3 linked regions of the Homo sapiens genome follow. The protein of the gene in region 2 purifies or fractionates together with the protein of the main gene of each other region. This does not show direct contact. Each region holds a gene or a part of one and is shown on either strand. Other genes may lie near its edges.

What was found.
Region 1: the proteins of SLC29A2 (region 2) and ADGRG2 purify together in Homo sapiens (affinity purification with mass spectrometry; one large-scale study listed by BioGRID and IntAct). This does not show direct contact.
Region 3: the proteins of SLC29A2 (region 2) and CAP1 purify together in Homo sapiens (affinity purification with mass spectrometry; one large-scale study listed by BioGRID and IntAct). This does not show direct contact.

Annotation. Positions count from the first base shown.
Region 1 is NC_000023.11:18,991,031-18,993,516, reverse strand, and holds part of ADGRG2 (adhesion G-protein coupled receptor G2 isoform 1 precursor), read left to right. Parts: intron 1-2,468; coding exon 2,469-2,486. UniProt on the Homo sapiens protein: Adhesion G-protein coupled receptor (aGPCR) for steroid hormones, such as dehydroepiandrosterone (DHEA; also named 3beta-hydroxyandrost-5-en-17-one) and androstenedione.
Region 2 is NC_000011.10:66,365,287-66,368,811, forward strand, and holds part of SLC29A2 (equilibrative nucleoside transporter 2), read right to left. Parts: intron 3,386-3,525; coding exon 3,251-3,385; intron 2,584-3,250; coding exon 2,486-2,583; intron 2,263-2,485; coding exon 2,178-2,262; intron 1,279-2,177; coding exon 1,145-1,278; coding exon of another isoform or gene 946-1,144; coding exon 840-945; intron 736-839; coding exon 650-735; intron 1-649. UniProt on the Homo sapiens protein: Bidirectional uniporter involved in the facilitative transport of nucleosides and nucleobases, and contributes to maintaining their cellular homeostasis. Functions as a Na(+)-independent, passive transporter.
Region 3 is NC_000001.11:40,061,130-40,064,784, reverse strand, and holds part of CAP1 (adenylyl cyclase-associated protein 1), read right to left. Parts: intron 3,051-3,655; coding exon 2,973-3,050; intron 559-2,972; coding exon 415-558; intron 312-414; coding exon 226-311; intron 1-225. UniProt on the Homo sapiens protein: Directly regulates filament dynamics and has been implicated in a number of complex developmental and morphological processes, including mRNA localization and the establishment of cell polarity.

The sequences.
Region 1 (2,486 bases), on a different chromosome or scaffold from region 2:
AAGATGCAGTCTTGCTGTGTTGTCCAGGTTGGTCTCAAACTCCTGGGCTCAAGTGATCCTCCCGCCTCAGCCTCCCAAAGTGCTGGGATTACAGGTGTGAGCCACTGTGCCCGGCCTGTCTAGGCTTTTAAAATACCATAGGATGCCTCAAAATCAAGGTTTCTCAACTTCAAGCACAATTGACATTTTGGGGCTGGATAATTCTTTTTTGTGGAATTGCAGGACATTTAGCAGGATCCCTGGACTCTATCAACTAGAGCCAGTAGCACCCTGCCCCCAGTTATGACAACCCAAAATGTCCCCAGACACTGCCAACTGTCCCAGGGGAGCGGGGAGAAGAAGGGAGCAAGATTGCCCCCAGTTGAGAATCACTGCTGTAAAAGATGAGAAATAACTGTTGTATAGCCTTAGCTCTTTACTGTCGATACCAGAAAGCAAGCTCTGGGCTCTACACCAAATAGCTCTATCAGGAATGATTCAATGTAGGTAAACAGAGGCGAGGCAGCGGGGAGCACAGCTGGTTAGTACGTTAGTGTGAGAAAGCAAATTGAAAGGAGAGACATCAAAGGAGCGAGCAGGGTCATCTGGGGCTCTGAATCCATAAACCAGATTTGTCCATATTCTCGAAAGAGCTCAGAGATGAAGCCTCACCTGCCTAGCTCTATCAACATGTTGTCATCCTTTGGGAAATCAGATTTCATGGAAACAGCACATTTTACCACAGTTGTTTAACACAGCTGATTTGACACAGCTACTTTTGATGCTTGACGGTGAGGATGGGGGTACATTTTAAGGCTGCCAAAATGGCTCAGTGTTTAATATCACATAATATGCATGTCAGATAACCATTCCTGACTCCTCAGTCCTTGCCCCAGCATCTGGGATAGATGAGGAATGGAATTGGCAATTTCAAAAAAGAAAGCTAGGGCTGGGCGCAGTGGCTCACACCTGTAATCCCAGCACTTTGGGAGGCTAAGTTAGGAGGATCACCTGAGGTCAGGAGTTCAAGACCAGCCTGGCCAACATGGAAAAACTCCATCTCTAATAAAAAATGTGAAAATCAACCAGACGTGGTGGCACACACCTGTAGTCCCAGCTACTCAGGAAGCTGAGGCAGGAGAATCGCTTGAACCCAGGAGACAGAAGTTGCAGTGAGCCTAGATCTCACCACTGCACTCCAGCATGGGCGACAGAACGAGACTCCGTCTCAACAACAACAAAAAAAGCTAGAAGTTTAATGATTTATTATGCCAGACCAAATTGTTCTTGCACCAAAATGTCCTCAAGCCGAAATGCCTAAATCCAAACAGCTGCCTCAGACAGTCACATGCCCTATTTGATCTGTGTCACAGATGGAGCTACGTTAACCATATTCATCACCTAGTTTGCATGAATATTACACAGTTCAGTTCTGAGCTGCCTTAGAGGGTGGGGTACCAGCAGCCATCTCATTTGGTACCCAGGACCACAAGGATCACAGTTTGGAAGCAACATCACACGTCAACTCCATTACTTCTGAGCTGTGTGACCTTGGGGAGAGCACTTAATTTCTGAAACCTTCGTTTCCTCATCTGCAAAATGGGGATAACAGTAGTACCCACCCTGCAGGGCTCTAAATGAGATAATAAAGTGTCCCAGTACTGTTATGATCATTGTTATCATAATCATGTCATGAACTATCAAATGGGCTTATTATTCAGCTTTGTGTATAGTCTCCCAATGGTCTAATGATCAGAAGGATGGTGCCAAGTAACTAGAGGAGGCCAGCACCTGTGCTCCCCTATAACTCAGGGCCTGCTTGGGGTGGGGAAGGCCCACGTCCAAACCAACAGTTACCCTTGAGTGCCCAGCTGCTCCCTGGCCTGGACTCTGAAGTTGGAATTGGTAGTTTCCTCTTGGGAATTTGTCCTGTCCTGATTTAGTCAGAGGAGCTGGTTTAATCTACAAGAGAGATGATTTCTTCTTGCCATGACTGTTGTAGCTGGTTGCTCTGGTTTCTCTGGTACAAAGTTTCATTTTATAGGAACCTAGGGAACCAAGAACTTCCTAAGGGTACATATGGGGATCTCTGTTAACATTAACCTTTTGGGAGACCAAAGTATTACCTTAGCTTATATTATACATATGCTGCTACTTGAAGTCAAAACATATCCAACCAGAGTTAGGAAGTGGGCCTTTTATTAATATATTACCTTGCTTCAGATTTTGACTGTTTCATTAAAAACCAAACAAAAAAAAAACTGCCATAGAGAACTGGTTTCTGAAGCAATCTCCACTTTGGTATGCTTACTTTGAGTGGCCTTAGGGAAGTAATGAAAAATAAATAAAATATGAACATATATCACAAATGTTTTTAAAAACATATTTTACAAATACATCTTTAAGAATAAAGCAATGTCTAAGTTTGTTTGCTTTTTAATGCTTTCTGTGGATACTTCATGCCACCCGCTTTGTGTTTCCTTATACAGGAAATGCTTCTACAGAGA
Region 2 (3,525 bases):
CTGACCTGACCTACCTTGTGAGCCAGTGAGGGAGGACCCAGCACTGGGGCCTGGGCCAAGTCCACCCAGAAATCAGGGACTGGCCTGGGGCTCACCTCTGCCTCTCCCAGGCTCCAGCTTGTGCTCTCCACCGCATCTACAGTTTACGTACTCGGTTCCTCAGAGCACCCACTGGTGGTTCCACAGACCCCCTTGGGGGCAGATGGGGTTTCTGAGTGGGATTGGAAGCTGTAGATCAGCTCCTGTCCTGACTTGGATGAGACCAGCTCCTCTTTCACCTGCGTTATGTATTGTCTCTTTGGAAGATTTCATTTAAAGATACAGTACCATGGCTAAAACCAACCCCAAAACTAAGACTCTTGCTCAGTCCCTCACCTGGTGCAGGAACCTCCATGTAACATTCTCTGAGCAGCAAAGGCTGGATGCTGGGGACACAGAGGTCAGCTGGACATGATTTTTGCTTTCAGGGAGCTCACAGTGCAAGCCCTGGCCTGCACGCCTCCAGGGCCCAAGTGCTCCCTGCTGCTTGGCCAGTGGTTGCATTACCAGGCCATTTGGACTACCAGAAAATCACCTCCATGCTCTTTCAAGCCCTCGGATCCCAAACTGCTTCCTAAAACATCGGATCACCCAGCCCTGGTGTGCTTACCCACAGGAAGTAAGAGGTCAGGCTCCGTCCCAGCCAGTCCATGATGTTGAAGAGGAGGAAGCAGCAGATGGGGTTGAAGAACTGACCTGGGAGGGAAACGGCTGCAGCTCATACTGGTCTCCAACTCCCCTCTCCCGTCCTCTCCCCTTTGTACCCCCTGCCCTGCCGTCTTCTCCACCCTGACACTCACTCCACTTCCCAGGACTGGTGGAGCTGGTCACCATGGCTGTGATGGCGGGGAAGACGGACAGGGTGACTGTGAAGACCAACACAAGGCACAGCGCTGTCAGCCAGATCTGGGAGCCAGAGGCAGGGGTGTGAGCAGGCAGGGCAGTCCCAGGGCCCCACCCTCTTGCCCAAGCCCCATGTGGGAGCAGGACACTTGGGGCCTGGCCCAGCTGTGTCCCTGACCCACTGTGACCCTATGACCTTGGAGTCAATGTGAGCCCCATTCTTCCCCAAAGATGGTGGTTGGGGGCTGTATCCAAGCCAAACCTTCTGGAAGACAGTGAAGACTGAAGGTTTTCCTGGCTTCTGGGGCTCATCTGGCTCTGATTCCGGCTCCTTCTCCAGGTCAAGATCCAGGGTCAGAGCTACTTTCTGGGGACTACTGGGAATCCCGTTCTCATCTGGGGTGAGGGGGGACGGGGAAGGGTCATGCTTGTGACCCAGGTTTCCCGACAGCCAGGCCCAACGAAGGGAGATTCCCAGCAGTTAAAACAAGTGATCCTCAGCTCAGCATGGTGGCTCACGCCTGTAATCCCAACATTTTGGAAGGCCGAGGCGGGCATATTGCTTGAGCCCAGGAGTTCGAGACCAGCCTGGGCAACATGGTGAATCCCCATTTCTACAAAAATAAAAAAATTAGCCGGGCATGGCAGCCTGCACCTATAGTCCCAGCTACTCGGGAGACTGAGGTGGCTCACTTGAGCCCAGGAGGTCGAGGCTGCAGTTGAGTTGTGATAGCACTGCAGTGCAGCCTAGGTGACAGAGTGAGATCCTGACTCAAAATAACAACAACCCCCTCACCCCAAAACAAAAAAAGGTGATCTTCCTCCAGCCTAAGCTGAGGCTGCAGGCGAAGGGAATTCATGATGGAAATATGCATAGCTACCAGGAAGCGCGTGCATGGGTCGGGTGATGAGCGAAGCACCTTAGATGGATTATCTCATTACCATTGCTTTACAAATGACACATTGAGGTTCAGAGGGGTGCAGTGGCTAAGTGGTTTGTCTCAGGCCACACAGCTGGGATGTTGTGAAACTAGTATTCCAATTCAGAGGTCTTCGGATCCAAAGTTTGCATGCATGGAACCTCTGTCGCCTCCCCATTTTATAGAGGTGGAAACTGAGGCCCAAACAACAGCAGGGATGACTTTAATCCTACCAACTTCCCTTCATGATCTTCCTGTTTGCACAAGGCTACTAGGGGTGGGCTCTGGCTGGGAACAGATGGAACAGCTTCCCAGGGGAGGTGGCTCTAGCTTCCTCTGCATCTCCCACCTCCCCAGGAGGGTCTCAGGGCTTACCAGACTGGAGGAGCTCAGCTTTGGTCTCCAGCTCCTGAGCTTGGGCCTGGGATGATTTATTGGCCAGGTAGTAGCGGGCAAACTTCTGCAGAAGGACAGGAAAGTGTTGGGCCTGCCTGGCTTGCCTGAGGTGTCTGGATCCCTCCCCATACCATTGGCCTGGAGGCTGGGGCCCCTCAGTGTCTTCTCTGGGGGTCAGGGCTGAGACCAGGTCTCCTCCACCTCCCCTGGCCTCTCTCAGGGCCTCAGGCTCAGGACTCTATCCAAGATGCTTTGAGGTGGGGCCTCGAGCCCAACAGCAGGCTCACCAGGTGAGGCAGGCTCAGGTAACACACGATGGACATGAGGATGCCCACACAGGGCGTGATAAAGTACCCCAGGGCAGAGGTCTCGGCGTCCACGCCACCTGCGGAGGAACTTCAGCTGCAGAAGAGAGGCACCTGGTCCCGCCGGCTCCCACGGGGCTTCCAACTCTTGTCCCACTTCCCATTGTGTACTTCTCAGACCCACTCCCAGCCTCTTCCGCTCCTCCCTTCACTGACAAATGGGAATCTTGTACAGGGCCCCAGAGCAGCCCTGCACTTCTCTCACTTTCCCCATGTGTCATTTTTGTTGAGCACGTACTATGTGCCAGTAGCCTTCTCTCATTGCATGCTCATTACAATCTGAGCAGGGAGCTATACCAATCACGTCGGTGGGGAAGCTAGCACAGAGAGGTGACAAGCCTTGTCCAACACCCCTAGCTGGTAAGCGGTGAAGCAGATTCAAACCCAAGACTATCTGAATCCCAAACCCATCCCCTTATCCTTCAACTTCAACCTGCTGCCACATGCCAGTATTAGCCCCAGGAATCCTGCCCCTGTCCCTGAGTTAACCCAGTCCTCACTTGGTTATTACTCCTCACTGCAGGGCCCATGAGCCCCACTCCCTAGCCCCAGACCCAATCCCCATTTCCATATCACCTGCTTACCTCCATCTTCACCCAGAACCCATGTGTCTTGCTCTCACATGCCCTCTCTCTTCCCCAAACCTCAGAGGCCACCCCAGCCCTCCAGCCACCCAAGTGCACTCACTGGCCATGGACAGGAGCATGGCAAGGGCAGCAAAGATCCCAGCCAGGCCCTGGCCGCTGAGGAAGAGGGTGCTGTAGGTGGAGGGCATGGTGCCCAGCTGCCCGAAGAGGCTGCCCTGTAGGACTGCACTGAAGGCTGTGGAGGACAGGGATGGGGGCTGCTGCTCAACTAGGCAAGACTCAGAGGCTCCCTGGAGGAGGTGCCGGCAGGATACACAGGGGACTCTGGACAAGGTTGCGCAGGTGTGAGCTTCCCTAGGGACTCTGAGCACTCGG
Region 3 (3,655 bases), on a different chromosome or scaffold from region 2:
TGGGAAACAGTGAGACCTCATCTCTACGAAAAAATTAGAAAATTAGCCAGGCATGGTGGAGCGTGCCTGAAGTCCCAGCTACTTGGAGGACTGAGGTGGGAGGATTGTTTGAGCTGGGAGGTTGAGGCTGCAATGAGCTGTGATTGTGCCACTGTACTTCAGCCTGGGTGACAACGCAAGACACTGTCTCAGAAAAGAAAAAAAGAGAGAAAAGGCTGAACTTACACATCTTTGTACTCTTTGAGGACTCGGTTTGTATAAAACATGGCGGCATCATTCATTTCTTTCACATAAGGGCCAGGCTTGGGAGCCTAGAGAGAGACAAGCTGTCAGTGACTCAGGACCTCTCCAACTATATTGCCTTCCCTCTTAAAATCTATACCCACCCCCAGCCCTGGAATCTGCGCTGCTCACCATAGCCACCCAGCCCAGGGCCTGGATACTTTCGCTGACAGCTGACAGGTGATTAAACAACTTGCTGCCTCGGTTCTTCTCCCGAAAGGTTATCACTTCTTTGATCTGCTCTGAGATGGGTGCCAACAAATCGGAAAGCTTATTCTAGGAAAAGATACAAGAAAAGATTCAGGTTAACATCTTTCCACAAAGGTGTCTATGCCTTCTGATCCTGAAGGCAAGAATTCTCTATGGACTCTAGTGAGCACCCAAATAAACTGCATGAGTCCTGTCCTGATTCCTAAGGCTAAAATACTGCTCATCATCTCACTCTCCTCGTAGAGTTCCAACTCCTCAGGCTGCACCTGATGGTTCTTCATGATCAGGACCCATACTTCAGCTATACCACAGAACCTCCATTTCAGCCACCTGTCTCTTTTTTGTTCCACTCAGAGGACATACACTCAGGACATCATTCCTGTGCCTTACTCATGATGTTCTCTTTTTTTCCCATGAATCCAAATTTTCCTCATGCTTCATGAGGGCCCTCCAACCCAGCCACACCAGCCTCCTACAGCATTTGTTGTCAGCATAACCAATCTTGGCATTTTATCACTCACCAATACAAACTATTAATGGACCCATGTGAATATGTTTTACTTTCTCATTAATTCTTCAAAGACGAGCTCTTTTATCATCATGAAAGCCCCCAATGCATTGCCAGCCATATAGTAGCTGCTGTAAAGAACTGATGAATCAAATGCAATTAGGGGGCTTAGTCTGGGCATGGTGACCCACGCCTGTAATCCCAGCACTTTGGGAGGCCAAGGCAGGAGAACTGCTTGAGACCAGGAGTTCAAGACAGACTGAACAACACAGCACAACTTTGTCTCTACAAATAATAAAAAGAATTAGGGCCAGGCATGGTGGCTCACGCCTGTAATCCCAGCACTTTGGGAGGCCAAGGTGGGCAGATCGCTTGAGTCCAGGAGTTTAAGATCAGCCTGGGCAACATGGGGAAACCCCATCTCTATAAAAATACAAAAATCAGCTGGGCATGGTGGCGCATGCCTGTAGTCCCAGCTATTCAGGAGGCTGAGGTGGGAGAATCACTTGAGCCTGGGAGGTGGAGGTTTCAGTGAGCCGAGATCCTGCCACTGCACTCCAGCCTGGGCGACAGAGAGAAACTCCATCTCAGAAATAAATAAATAAATAAGTAAGTAAATAAGCAAGCCAGGCATGGTGGTGCACACTGTAGTCAAGGCTACTCAGGAGGCTGAGGTGGGAGGATCATTACACCTGGGAGGTCAAGGCTTCAGTGAGCTGTGATTGCACCACTACCCTCCAGTCTGGGTGACAAAACAACACCCTGTCTCAAAAAAAAAATTTTTTTTTAAACATAAATAAAATAAAAAACAATTAGGGGCTTAGCATTCAAGTAGGCACCTTGGCAAAATGGATGAATTTTGTTTGTGTTTGCACCCTTCCTCCAAAGCTCCATTTCCTGAACATCTCAATTCTCAGATCTTAACCATTCAGGACAGATTAAGAATTAAAATCTAATTCTACATATTAGAATTAGATGGCATCTATACACACACACACACACACACACACAATGTTTTTTGAGAGAAGGTCTTGCTCTGTCGCCCAGGCTGGAGTGCAGTGGTGTGTTCATGGCTCACTGCATCCTCAAACTTTCAGGCCCAAATCTTCCTCCCATTTCAGCCTCTCAAGTAGCTGGGACTATACGCATGCACCACCTTGCCTGGCTATTTTTATTTATTTTATTTTTTTAATTTTTAATAGAGACGAGGTCTTGCTATGTTGCCCAGGCTGGTCTCAAACTCCTGGCCTCAAGTGATCCTCCTGCCTCAGCCTCCCAAAGTGCTGGGATTACAGGAATGAGCCAGCACACTTAACCAGAATCTAATATATTTGACATTATCTTGCACTATTTTTATATTATCTAGGCATGCTGAGGGTCAAGGGTTTTAATACAGCATTTAGGACAACTTGCTTTATTATTCCTCTGTAACTAGGAAAACCAAATGCAAAAGAAGGAAACCTATATTCTTTGACTCCAAGAGAAATCTAAATTTTCTCTAATTCAACTTTTCACATCTTGCACCATAAAATTTTGAGGTGGGAGTAAAATTAAAGAGAGAGTCTCCCAACCAGTGAAGGATGAGGAGAGAAGCAATACTGTAGGAGTTTTAAGATCTCCACAGGAGCACTACTAAAGCCCATCCACAGTGAAGCAAGAGAATCATCTTTAAAGGGCTTTGGAGACACTATGATGAATGTGGACTCAGCAAAGAGGCAGGCAAGCAAAGTCCCAGGGATAACCACAGTCCTATGCAAAATGACAGAGAAAAAGCCAGTAGAGACCATTAAGTACCCAATAGTACCTTCCCATTAAGGCACTTGAAGTATGGCTCTACCTCTGGGACTTGGTATGAACATATATTATCAAAAGCCTAGTAGGTCTATTTTAAAATGTTATAATAGCTTGACATAAATCTCTCAACTCGTCCTGAGCATCAAACCAAAATGAAACCAGCTAGTAGTGAACTTACTTCTGCTGGCTGTTGACACTGAGAAGCTGTAACCAACAGAGCTCGCTCCAACTTCAAACCTGTGTGGACCATCTCCGCCTGCCAGAAAGAAGAATCAGCTATTGATGACACATTATAACTAGAGAAGTCTTGATAAGAATAACCTGAAACCTCTACTTCCATGTACTCTGATAGCAACCCAGGCACTTCATGTTATCCTCCTCATGTATTCCAGATTCCAGGGACTGAGAGCAGAATTACATACACTACTGTTCCTATTGGAACTCATCAGGGATATATATCCAGAGTTGGAAGTGAAGTTAATTGGATAATCACCTAGCTTACATGAAGTCATGTTAGCATCTTACACATGCATTGTGATACCGTGCACTGAAAAATCCTTCCTATTTCACATCAGCAAAATAAAACAAACAGCAACCAAAAAAACACCTTTCTTTTCTCAAAAATTGGAGACAGGAGTAAAGGCAAAGGCCTAAATTTCTGCTGAAAATTCTCAAGGTATTTACTCCTTTAGATTAAAGCTATCTCTCAAATGCCAGATACCATGACCCATTAATAAATAATTAAATCAATTTAGTGAGCTTAATGGAACAAAAGTATGAGTGCAGTGCACCAACTTCAAGTTATTTCCAAATAAAAAGTTAAAAAAAAAAAAAGTACAGCAGAAGTAGTATAAATATCAT